Homo sapiens: one gene and its partners. Changing the gene in region 1 together with any one later gene gives a genetic interaction. Each region holds a gene or a part of one and is shown in the gene's direction. Other genes may lie near its edges. The genes, in order: STMN1, CD22, CYP4F12, NR5A1, CIT and CAMK2G.

Region 1 (5,091 bases):
TTTATATTTTTCTCCTTTAATACATGGTGTTGCCTCAAATAATGGAAATTAGAAACAGTTTCAGGAATGTTAAGTCGTTTTTCTGCAGTCATACAACTAGTAAGTGTTGGGGTCAGAATTCAAGCCCTGGTCTATCTTAAACCAAAGCTCATGCTTCTCTCATGCTTCCTCTTTGAAAAGATTTGTTGCCAGATGATTCTTTGGCACTTTGGTTTTGTTTTTTGAGAGCTGTACAATAACATTTTAAATTGCTAGTGTGATTGTGTTGCTCAGCTGGTATCATGGTAGCTTTTCTCTTATCTAAACAATTCTATTATAAAGTAACTATCTTTAAAAGCTAATCAGAAGAATCAATAAATATTAATATGCTAGTTGTAGAAAATTTGGGAAATACAGAAATTTATAAATGGAAATTAAAAGTATTCATTATCCCGCTTCCGAGAAGCAACCAGTGTTAACATTTTGGTGTGTTTCTTTCCATTCAATGTTACTCATTAACAACTGTACATAACTTTTCATTTAACTCCCTTTCTCAACAACCCTGATAGGATTGATTTTAAAGCTGGGGCAAGTGAGGCACAAAAGGTAAGGTAATAACCTTCCCCAGACCAGCATAGTGATTTGTAGTATACACACACACCCGCCCGAAGAGCCTCAGTGCTTACACTAAGGAGTCGTCTTCTATGCAATAGTGTGAGTTCATGGAGTAGGAGGAAGCAATACAACCAAAGGTTGGACAGTGGAAAGCTTTTTAGACATCAACCCTGGCCCTGTAGTCATTAGCCTGTGCTTTACATAGTAACTGGCTAAATATAATGAAACTCCCATCATGACTAGGATTTGGCAGAAGAGAATCAATAGAACCAGTGTCAGATGCTCTGTGGTTATCCTGCAAGTCAGTGGTTCCAATGTGTTTTGAGAACAAGCTGTTCTGTTGAAGGGGTCATACCAAGGTATGGTCTGGTAATTAATGCAGTTTCCTGAGACAAAAGCTAATAAGCCTTTTCCTTGAAACAAATTTTTCTGTCTTAAATAGTAATCTACAGACTTAGTCTTGAATTTCCTATCATTGTTTTATCAGTTATGGTTAAAATTTTTACAATGAGCTAGTTTTCTTTGGGTAGCTTTTGAAGTTAAATAGTGAAATTCTTTACAATAAAAGTGCCACTCGCAAGTACATATTCCTCAAGTCATCCAGATACCATTAAGCAGTAAATCTTACAAGGATTTCCTTAAGGACTAATTGGGTAAGATTTCTGAACAGATAAGCACTTTTCCAAAGTTAAATACAAATACTAGAAAAAGAATATCATTTTCACAGTATTTTATGATAGGGATAATTCAGGTCCTAATTTTGGTGTTATTTAAAGGGACCTTATTTTCTGCCCCTTTTCAATCCCCTTAGTAAATTATTTTTATTGTAATTTTAACTTATGCTGAATACATTTTATTTTTTGAGGCAGAGTCTCTGTCACCCAGGGTGGAGTGCAGTGGCACGATCTCAGTTCACTGCAACCTCCACCTCCCGGGTTCAAGCAATTCTTCTGCCTCAGCCTCCCAAGTAACTTAGACTACAGGCACCCGCCACCACGCCCGGCTAATTTTTGTATTTTTAGTATAGGTAGGATTTCACCATGTTGGCCAGGCTGGTCTTGAACTCCTGACCTCAAATGATCCACCCACCTTGGCCTCCCAAAGTGCTGGGATTACAGGCGTGAGCCACCACACCCAGCCTGAATACATTTTAGAGTGCCTAGCCTATTAAACTTTTTTTTCCAGTCCCATGAAGCTGAGGTCTTGAAGCAGCTGGCTGAGAAACGAGAGCACGAGAAAGAAGTGCTTCAGAAGGCAATAGAAGAGAACAACAACTTCAGTAAAATGGCAGAAGAGAAACTGACCCACAAAATGGAAGCTAATAAAGAGAACCGAGAGGCACAAATGGCTGCCAAACTGGAACGTTTGCGAGAGAAGGTTGGTTTCTTACTTTGTAAAAGGGTTGAGCTTGGAGTTTGATGCACCAATGAGTTGGCTTGAACTAAGTGCTTTGATAAAAGGTGTTTGGTGTCTTTTTGTCATCCATTTTGGGGCTTAACATATTAAATGAAAGGTATATTTTAAGATGGAATATTCAGTAATTCCCAGCATAATTGCACAGTCCTTGGAAGTCCAGTAGGCAGCTTGTTAGGTTCTACAAGGGACCCAGGAGATTTGATGATGATGTCTCAGAACTTAAATTGTGTGGTTCCCACAGGCTGTAATATATGCACTGAGGTTGTGTTGGGCCTCTTTGAGGTGGGGGCTGGGGGTCGTGACTTGACAGGCTTTTTTTTTTTTTTTTTTTTTTGACTGATGACACCTTACCCTTCCTTTACAGGATAAGCACATTGAAGAAGTGCGGAAGAACAAAGAATCCAAAGACCCTGCTGACGAGACTGAAGCTGACTAATTTGTTCTGAGAACTGACTTTCTCCCCATCCCCTTCCTAAATATCCAAAGACTGTACTGGCCAGTGTCATTTTATTTTTTCCCTCCTGACAAATATTTTAGAAGCTAATGTAGGACTGTATAGGTAGATCCAGATCCAGACTGTAAGATGTTGTTTTAGGGGCTAAAGGGGAGAAACTGAAAGTGTTTTACTCTTTTTCTAAAGTGTTGGTCTTTCTAATGTAGCTATTTTTCTTGTTGCATCTTTTCTACTTCAGTACACTTGGTGTACTGGGTTAATGGCTAGTACTGTATTGGCTCTGTGAAAACATATTTGTGAAAAGAGTATGTAGTGGCTTCTTTTGAACTGTTAGATGCTGAATATCTGTTCACTTTTCAATCCCAATTCTGTCCCAATCTTACCAGATGCTACTGGACTTGAATGGTTAATAAAACTGCACAGTGCTGTTGGTGGCAGTGACTTCTTTTGAGTTAGGTTAATAAATCAAGCCATAGAGCCCCTCCTGGTTGATACTTGTTCCAGATGGGGCCTTTGGGGCTGGTAGAAATACCCAACGCACAAATGACCGCACGTTCTCTGCCCCGTTTCTTGCCCCAGTGTGGTTTGCATTGTCTCCTTCCACAATGACTGCTTTGTTTGGATGCCTCAGCCCAGGTCAGCTGTTACTTTCTTTCAGATGTTTATTTGCAAACAACCATTTTTTGTTCTGTGTCCCTTTTAAAAGGCAGATTAAAAGCACAAGCGTGTTTCTAGAGAACAGTTGAGAGAGAATCTCAAGATTCTACTTGGTGGTTTGCTTGCTCTACGTTACAGGTGGGGCATGTCCTCATCCTTTCCTGCCATAAAAGCTATGACACGAGAATCAGAATATTAATAAAACTTTATGTACTGCTGTAGCAACTCCTGTGAAATGACTAAAGGGAACCTTAATTATTTCTAAAGTAGCATTTGACTCGGGTGGTTAAGGTTGGCAGATACGTCATCTTGTATCCAGAGGCTGTAATAGTCCCCATTGTCAGTGCTTTGCCTCTCAATTCAGGGAACGCCTTTGGCAGCTTTCCTGTGCTATTTGAGAAATAGCCTAATTATACATATTTTGTGCCTCTCAGACATCTGTATAAAAGCTCTTGGAAGCCAAGCACTTATAGCAAAAGATGATTGCTAATACTGCGGTGGGGTCCATGTGTTGCTAACGCATGTGCCTCTGCTGCTTGGGCTGTATCTTGAGATTGGGGTTTTACCAAACTTATTCATGAGAACAATAACAGCCTACCTCAACTTACCTCCTAAGATTGTTAGGATTAAATGGGTTTGTGGCAAGAGAGCACACTTAGAACATAGATATTTAGCATTCCGTATAAATCACGATTACTGTTTTCAACCAGAGGCTAATGAGTGATCTAAGTTTATACTCTTGAGTTGGAAATTATGCAGTTTTTATATTCCTTAAATTGACTTTTAAATTTACTTAAATGATCAATCAGAGGAATTCTGAACAAAGCTTGGTTTAAGGAGTTACGCCCATGTAGGGCAAATAGGAGCAAGTGCAAGTATAGTTGAATACAACAATAGGTTCTGAGCAATATCTAAACCAAGAGGACAGGATGAGGCTTGTGTGCAGTGGTGCAGCACAGTTCATCTTGGCTCCTGTCTCTGGCACATAGCAGGTGCTCTGGGATCTTTAAAATACCAGTTCTGAATAGATGGGAATATAAAGAGGGCCTGAGGGTAGAAACTTGGCATAATGATACGAGGTGTCCTACAAGTGGCAGTGAGCTTTTGTTCATCTAAGACATTTAGGGAGGGAAACTGGCCTCAGGAGAAAGCAAGGGAAGGATCAACAGGCCTGAAAGGATGCCTCATCAGTTACCACCCATCCCATGGTGGCCCTGACTTCCTATCAGAGGGCGATCCTGAGCCCCTGCCTTGTGACAGGCTTAAGTCACAGGAAACTGAAGGGGATGCATCTTACCACAGAAATAGAAGCTCTGGCTTTTCTATTTCACCTTGACCTTTGGAGAAGCACTTAGTCCTGGGCCCCCATTTTCTCCTGGATAAAATGAGATGGTTGGGGGAGATCAGTTAAGTAACTTTCACTCCCCCATTCTTTGCATCTGGCTTGGAGTGAAGAGGAGGAGCGGTGGCACCTACGAGCTTCTGGGGAAGTGTCTCTGGGTATGCATTCCCGGGCCCGGCATTCTCTGCCATCACGGGAGTCTGCGTCTGTCCCAGTGGGGCCAGCCTCTCCCAGCAGTACTTCCAATAGATTGGCCTAATAAGGCCAGAGTGGTTTGACAAGCAGTTGGGGCTGTCACCAAGGAGCAGACTCCATTCCTTTTGTCTTGAATGGAAAATGAGGCTTGTCCCTTCCTGAGGATTTTGTACTTGGGCCTTATGGTTGACTGGGCTCAGTGGAGAGAGGTTTGAAGGACGTGAAGGAGGCCCTTAAATTAACATTTGACAAGCACCTAGATTGTGCTCCACACTGGCCTTTGCGCTAGGGATGGAGAAAAGATGGGGTGGGACCAGCATATCACGTGCCCATGTGAGGGGAAGGAGAGCTGTAGAATGCTTACTTACCTGAGGGTGAGGCTCTCGACCACATACTTGTACTCACCAGGGTGCTTTAGTGCTTTGGTGAAAGG
Region 2 (4,787 bases), on another chromosome or scaffold:
CCAGGCTGGAGTGCAGTGGCACAATCTCGGCTCACTGCAAGCTCCACCTTCCCGGGTTCATGCCATTCTCCTGTCTCAGCCTCCTGAGTAGCTGGGATGACAGGCGCCCGCCACCACGCCCGGCTAATTATTTGTACTTTTAGTAGAGACGGGGTTTCACCGTGTTAGCCAGGATGGTCTCGATCTCCTGACCTCGTGATCCACCCGCCTCGGCCTCCCAAAGTGCTGGGATTAGAGGCGTGAGCCACCGCACCCGGCCTGTAGATGCTTGTTGAATGAATGAGGCCAGGTGCGGTGGCTCCCGCCTGCAATCCCAGCTCTTTAGGAGGCTGAGGCAGGAGGGTCTCTTGAACCCAGGAGTTTGAAACCAGCCTGGGCCACACAGCGAGATACCATCTCTACAAAAAAATACAAAAATTAGCTGAGCATGGTGGTGCGTGCCTGTGGTCCCAGCTACTGGGGAGGCTGAGGAGGGAGAATCACTTGAGCCCAGGAAGTGAAGGCTGCAGACTGAACTATGTTCCTGCTACTGCACTCTAGCCTGGGTGACAGAGCAAGACCTGGGTCTCAAAAAGAAAAAGAAAATGCTGGGACTGGGATTATAGGTGTGAGCTGGGCACAGTGGCTCACACTTGTAATCCCAGCACTTTGGGAGGCCAAGGTAGGCAGCTCACTTGAGGCCACGAGTTCAAGCCCAGCCTGGGCAACATGGTAAAACCCCATCTCTACAAAAAAAAATTAGCCTGGCATGGTCATGCATGCCTGTAGTCTCAGCTACCCAGGAGGCTGAGGTGGGAGGATCACCTGAGCCTGGAAGTAGAGGCTGCAGTGAGCCTGTGATCATGCCGCTGCACTCCAGCCTGGGTGACTGAGTGAGACCTTGTCTCAAAAAAAAGAATGGATTGGCCAGGCATGGTGGCTTACGCCTGTAATCCCAGCACTTTGGGAGGCCAAGGTGGGCAGATCACCTGAGGTCAGGAGTTCGAGACCAGCCTGGCCAACATGGCGAAACCCTGTCTCTACTAAAAATACAAAAAATTAGCCGGGCATGGTGGCAGGCACCTGAAATCCACCTACCTGGGAGGCTGAGGCAGGAGAATCGCTTGAACCCAGGAGGCAGAGGTTGCAATGAGCTGAGATCATGTCACTGCACTCTAGCCTGGGTAGAGTGAGATTCTGTCTCCAAAAAAAAAGAATAATTAACTGCAAGATACCAGGACTCCATGAGGGACACAGAGACTTAGCGTCCCTAGGCAGTGGCTGAGTCTTGAGAGATCTTGAAATTTTTAATGAGAACTGGGGCAAACTGTCTCATTACCTCTCCATTGTAAGACCCTTTTAACACAGTGAATCTTGTTACCATGTAGAGCACAGGACAAAAAGAACACATAAGCTCGATCCTTGGACCCTGAGATGTCATATGTGCTAACAGGACAGGGGTGCCCAAATCCTGAGCATCTCAGACAGCTGGATGCGTGACCACAGCAGCCACAGTGATGTTTGTGGAGTGTTTGCCACACGCCACACTCTGCTCTAAGGGAGTCATCTCATTTCCTTCTTGAAACAATTCCCAGGAGGTTAGGAACTCTCAGGACTCACCCCCCACCCACCCCGCACTGCCTCTTGTTTTTAAGATGGAGTCTCCCTCTGTTGCCCAGGCTGGAGTGCAGTGGCTTGATCTCGGCTCACTGCAACCTCCACCTCCCGGGTTCAAGCGATTCTCTTGCCTCGACCACCTGAGTAGCTGGGACTACAGACATGCACCAGCATGCATAGCTAATTTTTAAAATTTTTAGTAGAGACAGGGTTTTGCTGTGTTGGCCAGGTCTCGAACTCCTGACCTCAGGTGATCTGCCCACCTCAGCCTCCCAAAGTGCTGAAATTACAAGCGTGAGCCACCATGCCCGGCCTCAGGACCCCATTTGACAGACGTGTAAACTGAGACCTGCAGCCCATGCCCGTGCGCCTCTCAGCAGCCGTCTGGCTTCAGCGCTGTGCCCTGAACCCCTGCACCAAACCACAGCCAGGCCAGAGAGCCAGGGCAGGGTTTCTGTTCTCACACAGATGCAGGAAGGACGCACAAGCCCCCCTTTGATTAATTTAGGACCTGTGCAGATGCCCGGGACAGGTAGCGGGAGAAGAGGAAGCAGGAGGGAAGGGGTACTGTGGACAGCTGGCTTTTCTTTACTCACCTCTCTGGTTTTCTTCCAGATCCTCCCAAGAAGGTGACCACAGTGATTCAAAACCCCATGCCGATTCGAGAAGGAGACACAGTGACCCTTTCCTGTAACTACAATTCCAGTAACCCCAGTGTTACCCGGTATGAATGGAAACCCCATGGCGCCTGGGAGGAGCCATCGCTTGGGGTGCTGAAGATCCAAAACGTTGGCTGGGACAACACAACCATCGCCTGCGCAGCTTGTAATAGTTGGTGCTCGTGGGCCTCCCCTGTCGCCCTGAATGTCCAGTGTGAGTCCCTGGGCTAGGCAGGGGGATCTGGGAGGTGGCCCGGCTGGGATGAGGGGATGAAGGCAACGAGGCCGGAGCCTGGGCCAGTGTCTTCAACAGAATTGAGGGACAGGAGCCTGGCGTCAGGGCCAAGGGGAGGGGAGGCCTGGGGACAGCAAAAGGGACAGGGAGCGGAGAGGTCAGCTTGGGACCCTTGCCCTCCAGATGCCCCCCGAGACGTGAGGGTCCGGAAAATCAAGCCCCTTTCCGAGATTCACTCTGGAAACTCGGTCAGCCTCCAATGTGACTTCTCAAGCAGCCACCCCAAAGAAGTCCAGTTCTTCTGGGAGAAAAATGGCAGGCTTCTGGGGAAAGAAAGCCAGCTGAATTTTGACTCCATCTCCCCAGAAGATGCTGGGAGTTACAGCTGCTGGGTGAACAACTCCATAGGACAGACAGCGTCCAAGGCCTGGACACTTGAAGTGCTGTGTGAGTGAGGGCCGGAGGCTGGGAGTGGAGCAGAGAAGGGACCAGTGGCCTGCCTGGTAGTGACTTCGCACCCCCTCCCCCTGCCCGCCATGCAGATGCACCCAGGAGGCTGCGTGTGTCCATGAGCCCGGGGGACCAAGTGATGGAGGGGAAGAGTGCAACCCTGACCTGTGAGAGCGACGCCAACCCTCCCGTCTCCCACTACACCTGGTTTGACTGGAATAACCAAAGCCTCCCCTACCACAGCCAGAAGCTGAGATTGGAGCCGGTGAAGGTCCAGCACTCGGGTGCCTACTGGTGCCAGGGGACCAACAGTGTGGGCAAGGGCCGTTCGCCTCTCAGCACCCTCACCGTCTACTGTAAGGCCTCTTCCTGCTCTTGTTCTTCTTGGTGGTGGTCAGTCCTTCCTTCCTTCCTTCCTTCCTTCCTTCCTTCCTTCCTTCCTTCCTTTCTTTCTCTCTTTCTTTTCCTCCTCCTCTTCTTCCCCTCCTCCTCCTCTTCCTCCTTCTTCTTCTTCTTCTGCTTTCTCCCTCTCCTCCTCCTCTTTCTTCTCCTTCTCCTTCCTTCTTCTTCTTCTTATAGAGACAAGGTCTTACTCTGTCACCCAGGCTGGAGTGCAGTCGCATAATGACACCTCACTGCAGCCTCCAATTCCTGGGCTCAAGCAATCCTTTCGCCTCAGCCTCCTGAGTAGCTGGGACTATAGACATGCACCACCACATCCGGCTAATTTTTACATTTTTGTAGAGATGGGGTCTTACTATGTTGACCAGGCTGGTTTCAAACTCCTGACCTCAAGTGACCCTTCTGCCTCAGCTTCCCAAAGCCCTGGGATTAGAGCCATGAGCCACTGTGCCTCTCCCTGTTTCCTCTCATGCTCCTCTCTGGCCCTGTCTCCTCCAGTGACTTCCCGAAAAGCCTTCCAGACCAGCTGGCCCCTTCTTCCCCACCTCACTGTCCCCTTTCCCATTCACACCCCTTGCTCCAGGCCATCTGCCGCTGTGCTGGAGGAGTCGTCTTGTCCTGCGTCACCAGTCTCTCTTTTTCTACCTCCCCTGCAGTCTCTCCTGCCTCCCTCTAGGGTCCCCTCTCAGGCTGCTCCACCTTCCAGAAGTCCTGAGCTCCTACTGGGTCCCTGTCTCTCTCTCTCTGACTACTCTGTCTCTCTCAGCCCTGACAGGCTCCTTGTTTTTATCTTTTAAAACGTAAATGATTTTTTTTTTAAACGGAGTCTCGATCTGTCACCCAGGCTGGAGTGCAGTGGCGTGATCACGGCTCACTGCAAGCTCTGCCTCCCGGGTTCACGCCATTCTCCTGCCTCAGCTCCCCGAGTAGCTGGGACTACAGGCGCCTGCCACCATGCCCGGCTAATTTTTTGTATTTTTAGTAGAGATGTGGTTTCACCGTGGTCTCAGTCTCCTGACCTCGTGATCCGCTCGCCTCGGCCTTCCAAAGTGCTGGGATTACAGGCGTGAGCCACCGCACCCGGCTGATTTTTTTTTTTTTTTTTTGAGACAGGGTCTCACCCTGTTGCACAGGTTGGAGTGCAGTGGCACAATCTCAGCTCCTGCAGCCTCGACCCCCTAGGCTCAAGTGATACTCCTGCCTCGGCCTCCACAGTAGTAAACTTGAGTGGTTTTTAAACAGATCATACAAGCACCTGGTAAAAAAATAAAATGTAAGCATGAAAGGGTAAATAGTGGAAAGACAGACGCGGCTCACTCTTGATCCCTGAGAACTCTCATCCCCACCAAAGGTCCTCACTGCACACAGTCTTCCCATCTCACTGCACACAGTCTTCCCATCTCCTCCAGGGGTATTTTTCACACGCACAATTCACACACAGAGGT
Region 3 (4,787 bases), on another chromosome or scaffold:
TATTGAAAAGTGAATGCTCATACACTGCTATGAAAATTAACATAACCTCTGTGGAAAACGATAAGGATATTCCTTAGCGAACTAAAAGTAAATCTACCATTCCATCCAGCAATCTCACTACTAGGTATCCACCCAAAGGAAAAGTGATTATATGAAAAAGACACATGCACATGCATGCTTATAGTAGCACAATTCACAATTGTAAAGGTACGGAACCAACCTAACTGCCCATTGACCAATGAGTGGATAAAGAAAATGTGGCATATATACACAATGGAATACTACTCAGTCATAAAAAGGAATGAAATAATGTCTTTTGCCGCAACTTGGATGGAGCTGGAGGCCATTATTCTAAGTGAAGTAACTCAAGAATAGAAAACCAAATACCATATATTTTCACCTATAAGTGGGAGCTAAGCTGTGAGGACACAAATACATACAGAGTGATATAATGAGCTTTGGAGACTCGGAGAGCAAGGTTGGGAGCCGGGTAAGGGAGAAAAGACTGCATATTGGGGACAGTATACACTGCATGGGTGATGGGTGCACTAAAACCTCAGAATTCACCACTATAGAAATCATCCATGTAACCAAACCACTTATATCCCAAATGCTATTGAAATAAAAGGAAGTAAAGAAGAGACAGATCTGCACATTAACAATATATCTTTGGGAGCTTTTCTTTTTCTAAAAATATGAGTTTTGGAAAATTAGTTCGTTTTTATTTTTAATTGGCAAATTTTAATTATATATGTTTATGGGGTGCAATGTGATATTATGATATATGTATACAACGTGGAATGATTAAGTCAATTTAATAAACATACCCGTCATCTCATATACTCATCATTTTTGTGGTGAGAATATTTGAAATTTGCTCTCTTAGCAATTTTGAGAAATTTATTATTATTAACTGTAGTCACCATGCATGCAATAGATCTCAAAACTTATTCCTTCTAACGGAAACTTGTACCCTTTGACCAATGTCTTTCCATTCTTTCTTCCTCCCTTCTCTGGTAACCACCATTCTCTTCTTGGTTTCTATGATTTCTGTGTTAATTATTTCAGATCTCACAGTTAATTAAGGTTATGTGCTGTTTGTCTCTTTGTGCCTGGCTCATTTCACTTAGCATAATGTCCTTTAGGTTCTTGCAGATTGCCACAAATGAAAGAATTTTCTTCTGTTTTAAGGCTGACTAGCATTCCATTTTGTATATATACACCACACGGAAAATGAGTTTTGAATTACAAAAGCAATGATGAGAACAGTTTCTTCTTGCACTCAATGAGGCATCACAGATAGACAAGGGTTATTCTTGACATTCCTGCTATCCCACCTAATATCCTCCCTTTCTCCAAGGGGGCCTGTAGAGATACTTATTTGTCATCTATCTGTCTGTCTGTTTACATCTATCTACATATCTTTCTATCATCGATCTCTTCTTATATTCCTTATATTTTTTGTCCTATGGTATTTACATATATGGACATTTGGGAACATGTTTTTTTCCACTCAATACTGTGTCTGACAGATATTTTTTCTGAGTGCTGAATAGCATTCCATGTTTTATTTGGCCCATCCCTTTGTTGAAGACACTTGCGTAAACATTTCCAATCATTGGAGGTATGGCCAATTTGCATTCCAGAGTCTCTGTACTGATTTAGCTTCTGGTCTGCATTGTGTGACAGGACTAGTGATCCTTTTTTTCTCCTTTTGTGTAGCTGTATACTATTCCATTGTGTGGATGTTTATCTAAACATCTCCCCATCCATGTATATTTGGCTTGTTTCATCCTTTTGCTAAATTAAACTTGTGCAATCGGCATGTGTGTACAGTGAGCATTGCTCATATGTATAAACATCACTGCAGGACAAATTCCCAAAAGTGCAATTGTTGAACCAAAGACCATTTGCATTCTACAGTTGTAATAATGATTGCAAATCCATCTCTATATTAGGTGAGTTTGATGGCACTAGCTTTCCCACAAATTTGCCAATAGTATTATTGTATTATTAAATTTAAATTTTTTGTCCATCTTCATATTTCATCTTTTAATGAGCATTTTCTTAAATAAGAGTGAGAAAGAACATCCTTTGCCCAAGTTGATAAGCCATTTATTTTCTTTCTATGGGAGTGGTCATCTGATATTTTCTGCTGTTTTTCTTTGGGTTCTTTTTTCTTATTTACTTATAAGAATGTGTATCACAATTAATGTTTTTTTTTTCTGTTTTTTTGTTGCAAAAGATTGCCTTTTGACTTTTTTGGGGGGTGCTTTTGGTTAATTTTTATGAAGTTACATTTGTTCGTATTTTCTTTTGTACCACACTACCCAGCTATTTCCCAGAGTTTTGTGGGGCTTCCTTTGGCAGATGGGAAGTTTCCACTTATTCACATGCCCGTCTCTGACCTTTTTAGTCTTTTGAATGCATCCGTTTTTATGGCATTGCCAGACTATTTTTTCTTACTGTGACTTTTCTTTTCTTTTTTCTTTTTTTGAGATGGAGTCTAGCTTTGTCGCCCAGGCTGGAGTGCAGTGGTGCGATCTCAGCTTACTGAAACCTCCTGCCTCTCTGGTTCAAGCTATTCTCCTGCCTCAGCCTCCCGAGTAACTGGGACTACAGGCACCCTCCACCACGCCTGGCTAATTCTTGTTTTAGGTAGAGATGAGGTTTCACCACATTGGTCAGGCTGGTCTCAAACTCTTGACCTCAAGTGATCCACCCACCTCGGCCTCCCAATACTCTGACTTTCTAATGGGTTTTAATATCTGGCAGAGTGGCTTTTTTTGTTGTTAAATCAACCCCTGCAAACATTTATTGTGTGATAAAGTGTATGTTTTATTTGGATTGAGGGAAATTTATAATGAAATACAGAGATTTCATGTTTCTTTTTAAGTTTAATCCAGGTATTTTATATTATTATGACTAGTATCTTTTCTTTTATTATCTTTTCATTTGATGGTTATTTCTATATGGTAAAACTAATGATTTATGCATATAAATTCTATGCCCAGTGAACATAGTATATGCTAAAGATGGTATCTGTATCAAGAGAAAAAATATAGATAATTAAGTAAAAGCTCTTGGGGCAACTGGAAAGCCTTCTGGAAAAAAGGCAACTGAACCTTGTTCTCATATCTTATGACAAGATAATGTTCAGATTAATCATTTTTTTCTAAAAGAGTCCTAAAAGCTCTAGAAGGAACCATGAGAAAATTATTTCATAGCGCCAGAGTAGGGATAACCTTATTTTGACGTAAGTCCCAGGGGCTATGAAAAAGTGATAAACTGTTAAATGAGAGAAAAGATACACGCCAGCCACGGTGGTTCATGACTGTAATCCCAGTACTTTGTGAGGCCAAGGTGGGCAGATCACTTGAGATCAGGAGTTCAAGACCAGCCTTGCCAAATTGGGGAAACTCCATCTCTACTAAAAATAAAAAAAAAAATTAGCTGGCTGTTGTGGTGAATGCCTGTAGTCCCAGCTACTTGGGAGGCTGAGGCAGTAGAATCACTTGAACCAGGGAGGTGGAGGTTGCAGTGAGACAAGATTGTGTCACTGCACTCCAGCCTGAGCAACAGAGACTCCATTCCCTCCCCCCATCAAAAAAGATACAGAATAGTGTCTACAGTAGATGGTGTGCTCCTATATAATTTTTTAAGATGCTTAAAATCAGCCCAGAAAGCATACATTAAAAAAAATAATAACCTGGCAACGTGTGGGGAGAAGTAAATGGCATTGGGCCATAGGAGTGAATTATGTTTTATAGTTTTCAAATTCTGAACCAGATAATTGTAGACGGTATGAAAATTTTAAATAGCCACTGCAAAAGAAGAAAGATTAAGCAGAGAATTCAGCTCCTTTGCTTGATCTTAAATGTTTATAAACGTTTTCCAGTGGGGCCTCTAGTGTTTTCTAAGTATAAAATCACTATCTGCCAAAATGATACATTTACTACCACATTTCAAATTGCCTGACTCTCGTGTTTTTTTGGCTGCATAAATGTCTTCTTTTGAGAAGTGTCTGTTCATGTCCTTCGCCCACTTTTTGATGGAGTTGTTTTTTTCTTGTAAATTTGTTTGACTTCATTGTAGATTCTGGATATTAGCCCTCTGTCAGATGAGTAGGTTGCGAAAATTTTCTCCCATTTTGTACGTTGCCTGTTCACTCTGATGGTAGTTTCTTTTGCTGTGCAGAAGCTCTTTAGTTTAATTAGATCCCATTTGTCAATTTTGGCTTTTGTTGCCATTGCTTTTGGTGTTTTAGACATGAAGTCCTTGCCCATGTCTATGTCTTGAATGGTAATGCCTCGGTTTTCTTCTAGGGTTTTTATGGTTTTAGGTCTAACGTTTAAGTCTTTATTCCATCTTGAATTAATTTTTGTATAAGGTGTAAGGAAGGGATCTAGTTTCAGCTTTCTACATATGGCTAGCCAGTTTTCCCAGCACCATTTATTAAACAGGGAATCCTTTCCCCATTGCTTGTTTTTCTCAGGTTTGTCAAAGATCAGATAGTTGTAGACATGTGGCATTAACTCTGAGGGCTCTGTTCTGTTCCATTGATCTAGATCTCTGTTTTGGTACCAGTACCATGCTGTTTTGGTTACTGTAGCCTTGTAGTATAGTTTGAAGTCAAGTAGCATGATGCCTCCAGCTTTGTTCTTTTGGCTTAGGATTGACTTGGCGATGCGGGCTCCTTTTTGGTGCCATATGAACTTTAAAGTAGTTTTTTCCAATTCTGTGAAGAAAGTCATTGGTAGCTTGATGGGGATGGCATTGAATCTATA
Region 4 (5,537 bases), on another chromosome or scaffold:
CATTGCATTAAAATAGGGACACTAGGCTAGGTGCGGTGGCTCACACCTGTAATCCCAGCACTTGGGGAGGCTGAGGTGGGTGGATCACCTGAGGTCAGGAGTTTGAGACCAGTGCGGCCAAAATGATGAAACCCTGTCTCTACTAAAAATACAAAAATTAGCCGGGTGCGGTGGCGGGTGCCTGTAATCCCAGCTACTTGGGAGGCTGAGACAGGAGAATTGCTTGAACCCAGGAGGCGGAGGTTGCAGTGAGCTGAAATTGTGCCACTGCACTCCAGCCTGGGCAACAAAGTGAGACTCCATCTCAAAAAAAAAAAAAAAAAAAAAAAATAGGGACACTAAGGCCAGGTGCTGTGGCTTACGCCTGTAATCTCAGCACTTTGGGAGGCCGAGGCGGCCGATTTCTTGAGCCCAGGAGTTCAAGACTAGCCTGGGCAGCATGGCGAAACCCCATCTCTACAAAAGAAAATACAAAACTTAGCCAGGTGTGGTGGCATGTGCCTGTAGTCTCAGCTATTCAGGAGACTGAGGGAGGAGGATTGCTTGAGCCCAGGAGGTCGAGGCTACAGTGAGCTATGATGGTACCACTGCACTCCAGTCTGAGTAACAGAGCAAGACCCTGTCTCAAAAGACATAAAACAAAATAGGGACACTAAAAAAAGAATATTAAAATAGGGAGACTAGTTAGGTTCAGCCATATGCAAGAGAAGTATATCTTGTAAGAACTTCTCTAGGTGAAAAAGACATAATTACAAGGTCATGCACATTGAGGAATAAGTTGTCTGTTACGTTGTAGGTGGAATATATTCGATCAGTTAGCTATGACTGTTGGTGAAATTATATTATAAAAATTATTATTATTGAATTAATGATTATTAATTATTAAAACCCTATTGCCCGGGCTAGAGTGCAGTGGCACAATCATAGCTCACTGCAGCTCCAACTCCTGGGTTCAAACCATCCTCCTGCCTCAGCCTCCCGAGTAGCCGGGACTACAGTCTATCAGTATTATTGTTGTATGTTCACACACAATTTTAAGTGGCATAATGAGGAAAACACACACTAGGTTTTATTTTATTTTATTTTATTTTATTTTATTTTATTTTATTTTATTTGAGACGGAGTCTCACTCTGTCGCCCAGGCTGGACTGCAGTAGCACAATCTTGGCTCACTGCAACCTCTGCCTCCCAGGTTCAAGCGATCCTCCTGCCTCAGCTTCCCAAGTAGCTGGGACTACAGGCACAAGCCACCACACCAGGTGAATTTTTCTATTTTTTAGTAGAGATGGCGTTTTGCCATGTTGGCCAGGCTTGTCTTGAACTTCTTGACCTCAGGTGATCCGCCCACCTTGGCCTCCCAAAGTGCTGGGATTACAGGCATGAGCCACAGTGACTGGCTGGAAAACACATAGGTTTTAAATATAGTTGGCGTTTCTACTTTTTCAGTGGCCTTCCATGAAAAAATATATATAGGGAGAGTTGGCTTCACTTCACTTATCCAGAAAAGTCCCTCTTGTTCCAGATAAGTGAGGTGTTGGGTGTGATTTATTTATTTCCTCCAATGAAGGGATATGTGGGAGGAGGGGTGGTTCTCAACAGTGACTGCCCCATAGTCACCCTGTGCCCCTCCCTGCTCTCCCAAGATGAAAGGCACGGAGGTAAATCCTCTGAGGACAGAGACTTTTCTTCTCTTTCCTATGGGATCCCTGGTGCCTGGAACAGTGCCTGACCCCTAAGTGTGCGCTCAGTAAATGTGAGACAAACAGAGGAACACACAAAAGATCCAGTCACCGTGGGAGCGGCACAACACCCTGCAACCCGGGCCCTACAGGAACAGGATATTTCAGAGCCCATCTGGGCCCAGAGATTGGATGGGGACGTCCCAGGTTGTCTAGGGAGGCCTAGCCTTCTAGATAAGGGCCCCTTCCTGCTACCCTGTCCTATCCTGGACTAGCTTCATACTTGGTTCAACCTGGGGCCACTATAGCCACCACTTGGCCTCAGAGGCAGTCTCAGCCCAGCCTCAGTTTTTCCAGCCATCGACTGGGAACATCAGCAGCCCACAGCAGATGAGGACATTCAGAGGCCACCGTGGCATGCACGCACCAGGTGTCCAGGCCGCTCACCTGCTCCCCTTCCGGCCCCCCTCTTCTTCCACCTGATGGAAGAGGAAAAAGAGGTGGAAGCAGCAGGCCGCCTAGTCAAGTCGCCATGGCCTTGCCTCCGCACTGGCCTGTCCTGACTCTACTCCAATGTCCGGGCTGGGCCAGACCATGCCAGGCCAGGCCCCAGGGAGGTAGCCATTCACAAGGAGAGAGGAGCAGGCGGCAGGCCGGGTGGGGGAGCAGCCCATAAATCAAGCCCCACTCCCACCCGGTTTCTAACAAGCGGGGCTGCCTACCCGCCTCTGTGGGGTCCCTGCCTCTGGGCTCCCACAGCGGGCCTGGAACAGCCAGCTGGCCAAGGCCTCTGCAGTGCCTTGGCCTCCGCCCCCACCCTCAGCCCCCAGATAGATAGGGGTATTTTTTTTCTTTTAGGAGAAGAAGAAAAAATAGACGTAAATGAAGAGAAACACCAACAAAGAAGGCGAGAGGCCTGCAGAGTCACGTGGGGGCAGAGACCAATTGGGCCTCCGGTGGCCCCCCCACCAGGGCGGGGAGGAGGAGGAGGACGGACGGACAGGGCCAGCCTGCTGTCCGGCTGCCGCCCGCCGTGGTGTGAGGGGGTTTCTGCGCACCCACAGTCGCCACCGTCCCACCTGGGCTGCCGGAGCCTCCCCCTGGACCCCTGGTGCCCACTGCCACCCTCATCCGGTGTGAGAGCGCTGCTTCCGCTTCGTAAGTGAGGGCCTTGGCCCAGGCCTCTAATGGCCAGCCTCCTTCTGCAGTGCCTCCCTGCAGCCTGGGCCGGCCACTGCCTGCTCCACTTAGTGACCGGTGCCCCCTGCTCTGGGCAGGGAAGGTGCCAGGGGTCTCCCAGACTCACCCTCCCACCATGCTACCCCCTCTTCTTCCCTGGGCTGCCGATGGGAGGAGCCAGGCCTGTGACCACAAGCCCCATGGAGGTCCGCTGGTGTCCCGCTGTCTCTGGCCAGGCATCCACCAGGCTGTGTGGGTCTGAGCCTAGAGGTCTGTGAGTGTGTCTGGAGGGCTCTGGGCCTGTCTTGGGGCTCTGTCCCCCACCTGAGTTTCTGTGTTGTCTCTGTGGCTCTCTCTGAGTCTTGCTGTGTATCCGTGTGTCTGTCTCCGGCATCCATCTGTCAGCCTGGGTTCTGCGGCCGGGCCAGGTCTAGGCTTCCCTCCCTGGGTGGGTGGATGAGGGGCTGGAACTCCCCAGGCGGTGGGCTGGAACCTGGAACCTGTGGGGGTGGGTGCCTCGGAGCCTGGAGTGCAGAGGAGCCATGGGCTTCCAGCCGGTGAGAGTAGAAACCCTTGGGGAGAGGGGATTGGAGATAGAGGGAGAAGGGCCTGAGCCCAGCCCCCACCCAACCCCGGCGGCTGGGGCCTGTGTGTCCAGCTCCAGGTTTCCAGGAGACCTCGGGTGAGCTCTACCTTAGAACAGCCAACTGGGGCACCCCAGCCCATCATCCACCAACCCCCTTCCCTCCTGCAGTCACTGTCTGAGGGCTCCATTGTGGTGGGGAGCTGTTCAGAGGCGGCAGTGACCCCCACCTCCAGCTCGGGCAGATGCTCTTGTTTCTCAGGGGTTTGGGGGTGCGGGGGGTACGATTAACAGGGTCTCTGGCTCTTTCTTCCCTCCTCATCCAAGATTCTTGCATGGAAACCGCAGTACCCCATCTGTAAAGCCAACATGTTCCACTTTATGCTCGGAGAAAACTGAGGCTCTCGTTTCAGAGAGGAGAAGTGACTTGCCCGAGCTTGCACAGCTAGTCTGCGGGTTCTGCTCCTTCTGTGGGTGAGCCAGCTGAGTGCGGTCTGCGCGGGGGGTTCTCTGGCCACAACTTGCAGGCCCCAGGCCCAGCTCCAACCGAAGCCCGAGGCCTCCAGGCGGGCGGGAGCCCAGATGGAGCCTTTTGGTGGGTTGCGCCGCTGTCAATGCAAAATTGCGGTATTTTCCTGCTTGAAGATCGCAGCTTTTTGGCCTCATGGTCCCCAAACTCTCTCTGACCCCAGGTGCCAGCGGGGGCGGAGGCAGGATGCAAGCAGGCCCCTTCCTTTCGGGTCCGTTTCTCCAGCTGAAAAACAGTGGCCCCGCGGATGGTCCCTAGCCCAGAGCAACTGCTTGGCCCATAGGCCCGGGAACCCCTTTGTCCCCAAGACCGCCCAGCGCTTTCTTCCTCGCCCCACCCCCCCGTGAGAGCTCCGAGGGGAGCAGCGGGGCCCTGCCTCCGGGCTCCTCTCCCAGCTCCTGCGCCCGTAGAGGCTTCGGGTCCCCCCAGGCCTCGGACATTTGTAAAATGGGATTTCCACGAGTCCCATTTCCAGCCCAGCGACCTGAGGCTAGCGAGCAGAAGGGGTTCGCCCCAGATCTCCCCAGAGGGGCGCCACTGAGCGCTTCCGCCAGGCCACACGCGTGCTTTGCCCCTACTGCTTGGGTTCATCCTCACGACCCACCCTTAGCGAGGAAGAGCGGTCATCTACCCACTTCACAGATGCGGCAACTGAAGACCCGAGACGGGGAGAGAGCTGCTACAGGCTCGAGTGAGGAGATGTGGTGGGCCCCATGGGAGAATCTGGCTTCCACCCGTGAATCCGAGCCTCGGCCACGGTCGCCACTCGCCCTTACCCACTTCCACGCTGTAGTGCGACCAGCCACCCGCGTGGCATTCGCCACGACCCAGCTGGGTTCACAGACAGGAGCTGCCTCCTCCCACTGCAGGCGGGTGACCCAAGGCCCCCACTGCCCTATACCTGCCCAGATCGCGGGGCACTCGGGCTCCGCAGCTCTCTGGCCGCGCTCGGGGTCCGGGGAGCCGGGCTGCGGCTGGGGGGCCTGGAGGATGAGGGCGAAGACTCGAGCTGGACTGCGGAGAGGGTGCCGGCGCGGGCCGGGCTTGGGGGGAGGACACGACCGGGCCTCCGCCCCCGGATACCGCACGCGCCGATATAGAGGGGCCGGCCCCCGGCCCCGGCGCGGCGGGTTGGCGCAGGGCGGGGTGGCGGCTGAGGGGCCCGGGTCCCAGGTGCGCCTCGGAGCGGCCCCGGCGGCGGTGCGGGGGGGAACAGGGAGGCAGGATGGGGGGCGGGGAGGCGGGAGGGGGGAGCCGAGGCCCCCGCGCCGCCAGCCCCGCGCCCCCGCCTCCCCGTCCCCGGCCCGAGCGGCCGTCATCGCGGGCGGGCGGCGCTGCGCCCGGGTGCGGCTCCTCGCCGGCGGCGGCGGCGCGGCCGAGAGGTGCGGGCTCCGCGCGGGCGGGACGCGGGGCGCTGCTCGCAGGAGCGACCAGGTGGGCGCCGGGCCGACCGCAGCCGCCGTCGCGCCCCCTCTCGCGTCCCGGGCCCTGGCTCTTCGCGCTTCCCTCCTCCGGACTTCGCCTCTCCGCCCGAGGTCGCTCCCTCGCCTCGGGCTCGGCTTCCCGG
Region 5 (4,787 bases), on another chromosome or scaffold:
CCCGTTAATCTCAGCTGACGTCCTGAATGGCCTTCCCTTGAGCAATCCTTCTTCCCCTGGCCAGTGAGCACCCTCTCATTTGTTTTATGATAGTTTCTTGTGGACACATCTTATCATTTCTTTTCCATTACAAGTAGGCTTAATGTAGTTCTCCTACTCGGAATTTATTTTTTTGTTTGTCTTCCAGATTTCAAAGCCATATGGCTAGAGATGAATATAAACCTTGATTTCAAGATGTTGAAATCTGAGTTATCTTAAATCTTACTGCTGCAGAGACAGGGGTTCTGGCCTTCTGAGCATTCGTTGTCTGAATCTCCAAACGTTACAGTTGCATGGGAAAGCAAGAGCATGGCATGAAACTATTCACTATGAACTGAGCCCTTATGAAATTATCTCTGCACACCAACTTCTCTGTTATATTGTAGAGGAGGAATTGGCAAACTTTTTCTGCACAGGTTTAGATGGTAAATATTTTCGGCTTTGTGAGCCATATGGTCTCTGTCTCAGCTGCTCAACCCTGTTGTGGTCATGCGGAAGCAGCTGTAAGACAATGCATAACCAGATGGGCATGGCTTCATTCCAATAAAACTGTATTTATAAAAACAAGCATCTTCCGGATTTGGCCCTCAAGCCTGTTCTAGAGTCTCTCCTTCCACAATAAACACTGTCTTTGCTGTCGCTTCTCAATTATGGACGTTGACAGAAGAGGTTCTGATACAGTTAGACCAATAATTGAAGAAAGAAATGAACAAGTTGATAAAATTATAGCCTCTTCCAATGAGAAGGATTTAAATATCAAGGATTAAGATAGTCCTTTGGGAAAACACTTTTCTTGTTTTAATTTTTAGTTTTAGTTTTTTAGAAGCGGGGTCTTGCCATATTGCCCGGGCTGGTCTTGAACTCCTGGGCTCAAGCAATTCTCCTTCCTTAGCCTTCCTAATAGCTAGGACTACAGGCATGCATCACTGTGCCCGGCTTTTTCAAATATTTTTGAAGAGCCTTCTTTAGGATCCACTGCAAAAGTCCAATGTGTCCAACGTTGGTGTCAGAGCATGTTAGCAGCAATTTTGTTGAGACAATTAGCACAAAACAAATCATTCTGTGATTCATGCTTGGTTCATTTTTGGAATCAGCATGTAATTGCATTGTAATTTAAATACTAAAAATATCTAGCATAAAATAAGTTTATATTCCAAGATAAAGCCTCAATCAAACAAAATATGTTTTCAAGTAATATTCACTGTAATTTTTTTCCTCCATTTTAAGTAGGGCCTTTTCCAAGCACAAATTATGCTGAGATAATAGGGACCCTAGTACTTTTAGAGCTGATCAAGGGTGGGAAAGAATTGACTCAGAAGGCCACATTTCAGTTCTCTCTGTGTTTGTAGGTCTTACTACATCTTCAGAGAGGGAGTTTGGCCCCTGGGTCTGCTGAAATCTTCATTTGAAATATCCAGGCCAGGAGTGGGTGGAGGATTGGGTTGGGTTGTACAAAAAGGCCGCAGTGTTTTCAACTGCTTGGTTACTAATTATCAACCTTTGAGGCCTGGGACGTTTTCTGAGCCCGCTTTACTTTGTCTGCCCTGCTCAGTTTCCTGACTCTATCAGGCCTGATCCCTACACCTCTCGGTCGTCTTATTGTCATGACTGAGAACCATCCACCTTCTGAGCATCTGCATTTGCATCAGGTGTCAGAGACTCTTGGAAAGCCACATGGGGGCAGAGGTGACCAAACACGAGGCCCAGGAGTGGGACAGACATGGCAGTTAACAGTGATCAGTACAGGGTTTCTCCAAACTGCTTCCTTGCACTGAGGGCCTTTGTGGGTCCCTGACTTCTGGGTCTTAGTAGGCTGACCTCCTAGTTGATGACTTCCTTCTGTGCCTTCTAGGCTCTGGGAAATAGTAGGTCAGTAGGATATTATATGGGGCTTATGACATCAAACTGGTCTTTTTTTTTTTTTTTTTTTTTTGAGACGGAGTCTTGCTCTGTCACTTAGGCTGGAGTGCAGTGGTCCGATCTTGGCTCACTGCAACCTCCGCCTCCCCAGTTCAAGCAATTCTCCTGCCTCAGCCTCCTGAGTAGCTGGGACTACAGGCACACGCCAACACGCCCGGCTAATTTTTGTATTTTTAGTAGAGACGGGGTTTCACCATGTTGGCCAGGCTGGCCTCGATCTCCTGACCTCGTGATCTACCTGCCTCGGCCTCCCAAAGTGCTGGGATTACAGGTGTGCGCCACTGCGCCTGGCCTATCAAACTGGTCTTTATTGGAATCCCAGCTCTACCACTCATTAGCTCAGGCAAGTCACCTAACTCCTGTCTGTCCCCATTTTCTTGCCTGTACAGTGAGGGTCATGCTTGTTCATAGCTCAGGAGCTGCTGTGATGATTTAATGAGATAATGAGAGATGGCAGATGAAGAACTTAGCACAGGCCTGGCACACAGTAGGTGCTCAGTAAATGAAAGCCTGCACTGAGGAAGGTGGGTTGTCTTTTGTTGCCATCTTTGCTCTCTTCCCTGTCTTTGCTACCAAAATCAAATGCAGGCAAAGTCCAAAGAACTCCAGGTCTAATCTCTTGATAATCAGTGGTGAGGCTGGGTCAAGGAGGGGGTTGCTCAGGTAAGAAGGAAAATGCCCCTCTGGGGTTGTGGCCTCGCAGCTCCCTACGTTCCTCTTGTGTCGCCAGCAGCCCCAACAAGCGAGGCCCACCCACGTACAACGAGCACATCACCAAGCGCGTGGCCTCCAGCCCAGCGCCGCCCGAAGGCCCCAGCCACCCGCGAGAGCCAAGCACACCCCACCGCTACCGCGAGGGGCGGACCGAGCTGCGCAGGGACAAGTCTCCTGGCCGCCCCCTGGAGCGAGAGAAGTCCCCCGGCCGGATGCTCAGCACGCGGAGAGAGCGGTCCCCCGGGAGGCTGTTTGAAGACAGCAGCAGGGGCCGGCTGCCTGCGGGAGCCGTGAGGACCCCGCTGTCCCAGGTGAACAAGGTGAGGCAGCATTCCGAGGCCTGTGTGTCTGTTGCGGAGGCCAGGAGTGACTTGGGGAACTGAGGCCCCCACGGGGCCACTGTTGTTTAAAAAAGGAACTCCATGACTGTAATTCAGACTTTGCGAGACACAGGAATTTAGGAAGAAAATGTACCTTAAGAAATAGCTTCCTGGCCGGGCGTGGTGGCTCACGCCTGCAATCCCAGCACTTTGGGAGGCCGAGGCGGGTGGATCACGAGGTCAGGAAATCGAGACCATCCTGGCTAATGTGGTGAAACCCCGTCTCTACGAAAAAAATACAAAAAATTAGCCGGGTGTGGTGGCTGGTGCCTGTAGTCCCAGCTACTTGGGAGGCTGAGGCGGGAGAATGGCGTGAACCCGGAGGGCGGAGCTTGCAGTGAGCCGAGATCGCGCCACTGCACTCCAGCCTGGGTGACAGAGCGAGACTCTGTCTTAAAAAAAAAAAAAAAAAAAAAAAAAAAAAGAGCTTCCTAAGCAAATGGATAACGTGTGTGTAATTGAAAAGGAAAATATGTATGCATGTAACTCAAAATATAATAGCTACCAAAAAATGTTTTCCCTTCTCCAGAGGCAAGTGGTAGCAGTTTCTAGAGATATTCTGTGCGTACCAGCAAATATATATGTGTGCTCTCCTTTTGAAACCCAAATGATAGCATCCTATATGAAATGTTGCATGCTTTTTTCAAACATAGATATAGATTCACACACATACACACATATGCTTTTCTTTTTTTTTTTTTCTTTTGAGAGACAGCGTCTTGCTCTGTTACCCCAGGCTGGAGTGCAGTGGCGTGATTATAGCTCACGGCAGCCTCAAACTCCTGGGCTCAAGTGATCCTCTCACTTCAGCCTCCTGAGTAGCTGGGAATATGGGCTGTAGCTACCATGTCTGGCTAACTTTTTCCCCCACTTTTTGTTTGTTTGTTTGTTTGTTTGTTTTGTTTTGTTTTAGAGACAGGGTCTTACTATGTTGCCCAGGCTGGAGTGCAGTGGTGTGATCATAGCTCACCACGGCCTTGAACTTCTGGGCTCAAGTGATCCTCCAGCCTCAGCCTCCTGAATAGCTGCGACTACAGGCTCAAGCCACCATCTGTCTGATTCCCACCCCCACCCCCGGCCCTTTTTATTTTTTTTAGAGACATAATGTCGCTATGTTGCCCAGGCTGGTCTTGAACTCCTGGGCTCAAGCAATCCTCCCACCTTGGCCTCCCAAAATGCTGGGATTACAGGCGTGAGTCACCACGCTCAGCCCACACATGTGTATATATAAATTGTTTTTCTGGAAGGCTACACAGAAAGTGTTCACAGTGGTTGCCTTCCAGAAGAACTTTGAACTTTTGGAAATGTTTAAATCATGTGCATGAATGATCTGTGTAATTTTAGGTTTGCGATCGAGGAGAGGGATGGGTGTGGAAGACCAGGGGCTCCCCCAGGCAGGGCATGGCTCAAGTGCTTGGTGCCTCCTTAGCAGGCTAAGCAGGTCAAGGAGCCACCTTTCTGCCATTTGGGGCTGATTTTCTGGGTGGCATTCTCCTTCTGATGCCACCTGCAGTTCACCTGCTGGTAAAGAAAGAAGGAAACACCATCCATATGGCTTCTTATCCCTCCCAATTGACCGATGAAACTGTGTATGTGCATGTGTGTGTATCACATGCTTACAGCATCGCAGGTACACACACGGCTTTGGGATTTTCCAGTGAGTTTCACTCCCTGGCTTCCCCAGGCTCTGGAGCGGGTGCTGCCCTGCCAAGCACTCACTGCTAGCTGCTGAAG
Region 6 (4,787 bases), on another chromosome or scaffold:
TTGAGGACCCAGGAATGGGCATCCAGGGCCCAATTCTTGCCACTCTATGTCCCAGGGAGCAACTTTCTTTTGCACAGCCTTCTTCATAACTAAAATTGAGGAGTCCACTGAAGTCCTTTGATCTTTACTTGCAAAGAATGGAGCGGCCTCATTGGTGTGCTGTGTAACACAGGGACAAAAGGCCTGGAGACTCCCTCCACTGCAGTGGCACCTTGGACACATTGCTGAGCCTCTGTTCCCTCCTAAGTATAGAGCTGGGCTTAAACCAGAGAATGTTGGAGTCCCCTTCCCGCTCTAATCTGATGTTCTGGCATTCTAAACATGACTGTTCTGTCTGTCTTTCCAAGTCTTTAAGTTGACACAGGTTCTGGAATAGCCGCAGGGCTTCTCCAACTCTGCCAGTCACAGCTTTAGGTACCACAGAGTATCCCAATTACAGGAGTTGAGTTGAAGACAGAACCAGTGTTGCAGGGTATGAAGCTCACCAATACCACATTCTTCTCCCTATTCCTGCTCCTTAGTTCCCATCACCAGAATGGGACACGGTAACTCCTGAAGCCAAGAACTTGATCAACCAGATGCTGACCATAAACCCAGCAAAGCGCATCACGGCTGACCAGGCTCTCAAGCACCCGTGGGTCTGTGTAAGTGTCTTTGCTAGTGGCCAAGGAGCTCAGGGGTGTCAGCCTTCTGTGTGCCCTCGGCACCACCCCCTCCTTCTTACCAGCAGAGATTCATTCTGGGCCCCAAGCAATAACTGAGCAGGCGGGCAGAGGACTGTTGAGGGCCAGGGTCAATAAATGTCACCAGGGAGACTCGGGAGGCTGATGGGGCTGGTGGGCCACTGCTCCTCTCTCCCCCACTCATGGCTGTCAGGCTGGGATTGGTTCTGTTCTTGGATGAGGGCTCAGGTTGACCCTTGTGGACTCCAGGTAGCCGGTGATAGAAAGCAGCTGGCAAAACCCAAAGTGAATTCCCAAGCTGGGGTTCATACTCAGATCTCAACTCCACTGGAGTGGTGACCAAGATCCAACAAATCAACAGAAGGGGTTTCTGAGTCATTAAAAGCATAAAAGCTGAGGCATAAAGCTTCTGCGCTAAAGTCCTAGGAGAGTCCTCTAGGCTATCAGTGTGGGTTGACGTACTCTGTTTTTATACACAATTCTTTCAAGCTGAAATATCAACTTTCAGACAAAGAAGAGGATTTGGTAGAGTTAGGCATCTTGACAACCACGAGGCATTATTTATCTGTCCATTCTGTGTTTATTAAATACCTCTTTGGTGCTGGTTACCGTCTGGGTGCTGGAGATACAAAGATGAATGAGGCATGGTCCCTGCCCCAAAAGATCATCTAGGGAGACAGGCACTCAAACAGGCAGTCATGTTACAATGTGACAAGTAGGTACAAGAATCTAATGAGAGTACAGGAGCTCCTACTGTTCCTGGTGGGTGGTGGGGTTACTGAAGGCTGCACGGAGGAGGTGACACCCCTGTGCTTGTTCTTGGCAAATAACGAGGTCCTCAGAACGTTAACCTGCAGACAGAGTTTAGCACAGTGAGAGGTTATGGGAAACTATGGTGAGTTGAAGGAATGTTGAGTTGTTTGGTTGTCGATGAGGCTGCAAATATCAGAATGCAAGAGAATGGGGCAAAAGATTCCCTGACATACAAGTTTCTGCCTCAGGAGTTTGGATTTTATTCTGAAAACATAGGGAATCATTTAAGGGTTTTAAAGAAGAATGAAATTTGCATTTAAGAACACTTTGGAAGTTGTGAGGAAATGAATTGCCAGGCATGGTGGCATGTGCCTGTAGTCTCAGCTGCTGGGGATGCTGAGGCAGGAGGATCATAAGCCCAGGAGTTTGAGGCTGCAGCGAGCTATGATTGCACCTGTGAATAGTCATTGTACTCCAGCCTGGGAAAGATGGTCAGACCCCACCTCTTTAAAAAAAAAAAAAAAAAAAGAAGGGAATTGAAAATTTTTAAAAGAAAAGGGCTGGAGACAGAGAGCTCAGGAAGCTTTTTTAATAGTTGGAATAGTCTAAGCAAGACCAGGTGAGGTCTCAGCAGAGGGTAAGGATGGGGGAATGTGCAGTGTGTTGAAATTCAAGAGATATTTGAGAGAACCTAAAGGATTTAATTCTCTCCAGTTGGATTTGGGGGGAGCAAAGAAGAGAGAGGCCAGGTTTCAAGTTGAGCGGAGAGTTGTACCCTCACTGACCCAGAAGAAAACCAGAGGAGGAGCTTGTTTGTGAGACAAGACGATGGTTTTCTCTTTTTTTTTTTTTTTTTGAGATGGAGTCTCGCTCTGTCGCCCAGGCTGGAGTGCAGTGGCGCGGTCTCACTGCAAGCTCTGCCTCCCGGGTTCATGCCATTCTCCTGCCTCAGCCTCCCGAGTAGCTGGGACTACAGGTGCCCGCCACCACGCCCGGCTAATTTTTTGTATTTTTAGTAGAGATGGGGTTTCACCGTGTTAGTCAGGATGGTTTCGATCTCCTGATCTCATGATCCACCCGCCTCGGCTTCCCAAAGTGCTGAGATTACAGGCATGAGCCACTGCGCCCGGCCAAGATGATGGTTTTCATTTTGTGCCTGCTGAGTCTGGCAACCTCCAGCCAGACACATTCAGTGGGTGGTTAGAAATATGGTCCTAGAGATTAGAAAAGAAGCTAAAAATTGGAAATCCACATTGTAGTCATTTCTGTGTAGTTGGTAGTGAGGCTGTAGAAATAGCCTCTTCCTATGCTGTAGATGGGCCTGTTCCTATGCTGGTTGAGTTCTTACGGTGAGCTTCTATTGGCTGTAGTAGAGAAGAGACGGCCACTACACACCAGCATTTAATGATAGGGAGAGTTAGGGGGCCCAGCAAAGAGCACTGAGAGTGAGACCTTCCAGAAGACCCAGAAGCTAAGAAACAGGGGGTCTCAGTAAGGGAGCGTCAGGAATCAGATGCAGAAGAGTCCCTGATTAAGTTGGGGAAGAATCCCCTGGCTCTGACCATTAGATGCCATTGTTTCATCATTTCACTGAGACAGTGGAGAGAAAGATGAAACCCTGTTTTCAGTGAGACGAAGAGGGAGTGAGGGTGAGGAGGGGCATGGGGAGCTAGGCATTGAGGTGGGAAATAAATGGTGATACTTAGATTAAGATGGGCCAGGGGAGCTTTTAATGTAAGGCTCACACCTGTAATCCCAGCACTTTGGGAGACCAAGGCAGGCGATCACTTGAGGCCACGAGTTCAAGACCAGCCTGGCCAACATAGTGAAACTCCATCTCTACTAAAAATACAAAAAATTAGCTGGGTATGTTGGTACACACCTATAATCCCAGCTACTTGGGAGGCTGAGGCATGAGAATCACTAGAACCCAGGAGGTGGAGGTTGCAGTGAGCCAAGATAATGACACTGCATTCCAGCCTGGGTGACAGAGGGAGACTCTGCCTCTAAAGAAGAAAAAATTTCTTTTTAAAGATTATATTGGTCAGGAGCGGTGGCTCACACCTGTAGTCCCAGCACTTTGGGAGACCAGGGTAGGTAGATCACTTGAGCCCGGAAGTTTGAGACCAGCCTGGGCAACATGGCAAAACCCCATCTCTACAAAAAAAAAAACTTTAAAAATTAGCTGGTTGTGGTAACGTGCCTTAGCTACTTGGGAGGCTGAGATGAGAGGATCACCTGAGCCTAGAGAGGTGGAGGTTGCAGTAAGCCATTATTGTGCTACTGCACTCCAGCCTGGGCAACAGAGTGAGATGCTGTTTCAAAAAAAAAAAAAAATTTTTTTGTTTAAGGAGAGGCTTAACTATAATCTATAGAGAAGAATCTAGTCCAGAGGAAAGAGTTGAAGATCCTTGCTAATTGAGGAAGCAAAGGTTTGGACAGCAGAAAAAGAGAGGGGGCTCCTGAGCCAAGGGCAGGGGGTCCATCCCGGGGATGACCATGATCCCCCTGAGACTTCTATTAGTGTGGAGGCAGGTGAAGATCGGCTTGTGAGTGGAAGTCTGAGCTGAAAGGGGTTCTTGCTGATGACCTCTCATTTTGCTTTTGGAGAAATTTACACCGAGGAGGAGGTAAAATGAGAGACTTGGGGAAGGTAGAGAAGGTGGGGAGAGTTGCCTCCGGACCTGGAAAGAGTGGGCCAAGGGTGAGGGAAAGGATGCGAGGAGGCCCCGTAGTGTTGGTGGGCACCTGGCTGCAGGTGCCAGGATTTGTTTTTCTGACAGGCTGGTGAAGACAGCAACAGCAAGGGGAGAGGGCAAGCAACCTGAAACAGGCACCCAAGAATGGGGGAAATATTCTGTTCTGGGGTCATTTTTGCAGGCCCTACCCTCTGCAGTCCCGTGTGTCTCGAGCCCCTGAGGACATCACTATATTCTGAAATTACATAATGATGCTGGTATTGACAGCTGAGTCATTGAGGAAGTGTAGACTGTGTCCCATGGACTCTGTTTAAGGAGGCCAGGAAGTTAGCAGTAAATACATTGAAGACAAATTTCCATCCAAAAAAGGCGGGGCACAGTGGCTCACACCTGTTATCCCAGGACTCTGGGAGGCCGAAGTGAGCAGATCACTTGAGGTCAGGAGTTCGAGACCACCAGCCTGGCCAACATGGCCAACCCTGTCTCTACTAAAAATACAAAAATTAGCTGGGTGTGGTGGGATGTGCCTGTAGTCCCAGCTACTCGGGAGGCCAAGACAGGAGAACCTGAGAGGCGGAGGCTACGGTGAGCCGAGATTGCACCACTGCACTCCAGCCTGACTGACAAAGCGAGACTCCATTGCAAAAAAAAA

The links.
Region 2: changes in STMN1 (region 1) and CD22 together harm fitness more than expected from each alone (negative genetic interaction), as found in Homo sapiens cells (one large-scale study listed by BioGRID).
Region 3: changes in STMN1 (region 1) and CYP4F12 together harm fitness more than expected from each alone (negative genetic interaction), as found in Homo sapiens cells (one large-scale study listed by BioGRID).
Region 4: changes in STMN1 (region 1) and NR5A1 together harm fitness more than expected from each alone (negative genetic interaction), as found in Homo sapiens cells (one large-scale study listed by BioGRID).
Region 5: changes in STMN1 (region 1) and CIT together harm fitness more than expected from each alone (negative genetic interaction), as found in Homo sapiens cells (one large-scale study listed by BioGRID).
Region 6: changes in STMN1 (region 1) and CAMK2G together harm fitness more than expected from each alone (negative genetic interaction), as found in Homo sapiens cells (one large-scale study listed by BioGRID).

The regions. Positions count from the first base shown.
Region 1 is NC_000001.11:25,898,371-25,903,461, reverse strand, and holds the end of STMN1 (stathmin), read left to right. Parts: intron 1-1,779; coding exon 1,780-1,971; intron 1,972-2,374; coding exon 2,375-2,446; 3' UTR 2,447-3,346; downstream 3,347-5,091. UniProt on the Homo sapiens protein: Involved in the regulation of the microtubule (MT) filament system by destabilizing microtubules. Prevents assembly and promotes disassembly of microtubules. Phosphorylation at Ser-16 may be required for axon formation during neurogenesis.
Region 2 is NC_000019.10:35,338,670-35,343,456, forward strand, and holds part of CD22 (B-cell receptor CD22 isoform 1 precursor), read left to right. Parts: intron 1-2,211; coding exon 2,212-2,469; intron 2,470-2,673; coding exon 2,674-2,937; intron 2,938-3,032; coding exon 3,033-3,296; intron 3,297-4,787. UniProt on the Homo sapiens protein: Most highly expressed siglec (sialic acid-binding immunoglobulin-like lectin) on B-cells that plays a role in various aspects of B-cell biology including differentiation, antigen presentation, and trafficking to bone marrow.
Region 3 is NC_000019.10:15,689,480-15,694,266, forward strand, and holds part of CYP4F12 (cytochrome P450 4F12), read left to right. Parts: intron 1-4,787. UniProt on the Homo sapiens protein: A cytochrome P450 monooxygenase involved in the metabolism of endogenous polyunsaturated fatty acids (PUFAs).
Region 4 is NC_000009.12:124,504,549-124,510,085, reverse strand, and holds the start of NR5A1 (steroidogenic factor 1), read left to right. Parts: upstream 1-2,686; 5' UTR 2,687-2,837; intron 2,838-5,537. UniProt on the Homo sapiens protein: Transcriptional activator. Essential for sexual differentiation and formation of the primary steroidogenic tissues. Binds to the Ad4 site found in the promoter region of steroidogenic P450 genes such as CYP11A, CYP11B and CYP21B.
Region 5 is NC_000012.12:119,688,357-119,693,143, reverse strand, and holds part of CIT (citron Rho-interacting kinase), read left to right. Parts: intron 1-2,689; coding exon 2,690-2,993; intron 2,994-4,787. UniProt on the Homo sapiens protein: Plays a role in cytokinesis. Required for KIF14 localization to the central spindle and midbody. Putative RHO/RAC effector that binds to the GTP-bound forms of RHO and RAC1. It probably binds p21 with a tighter specificity in vivo.
Region 6 is NC_000010.11:73,843,082-73,847,868, reverse strand, and holds part of CAMK2G (calcium/calmodulin-dependent protein kinase type II subunit gamma), read left to right. Parts: intron 1-77; exon of another isoform or gene 78-521; coding exon 522-644; intron 645-4,787.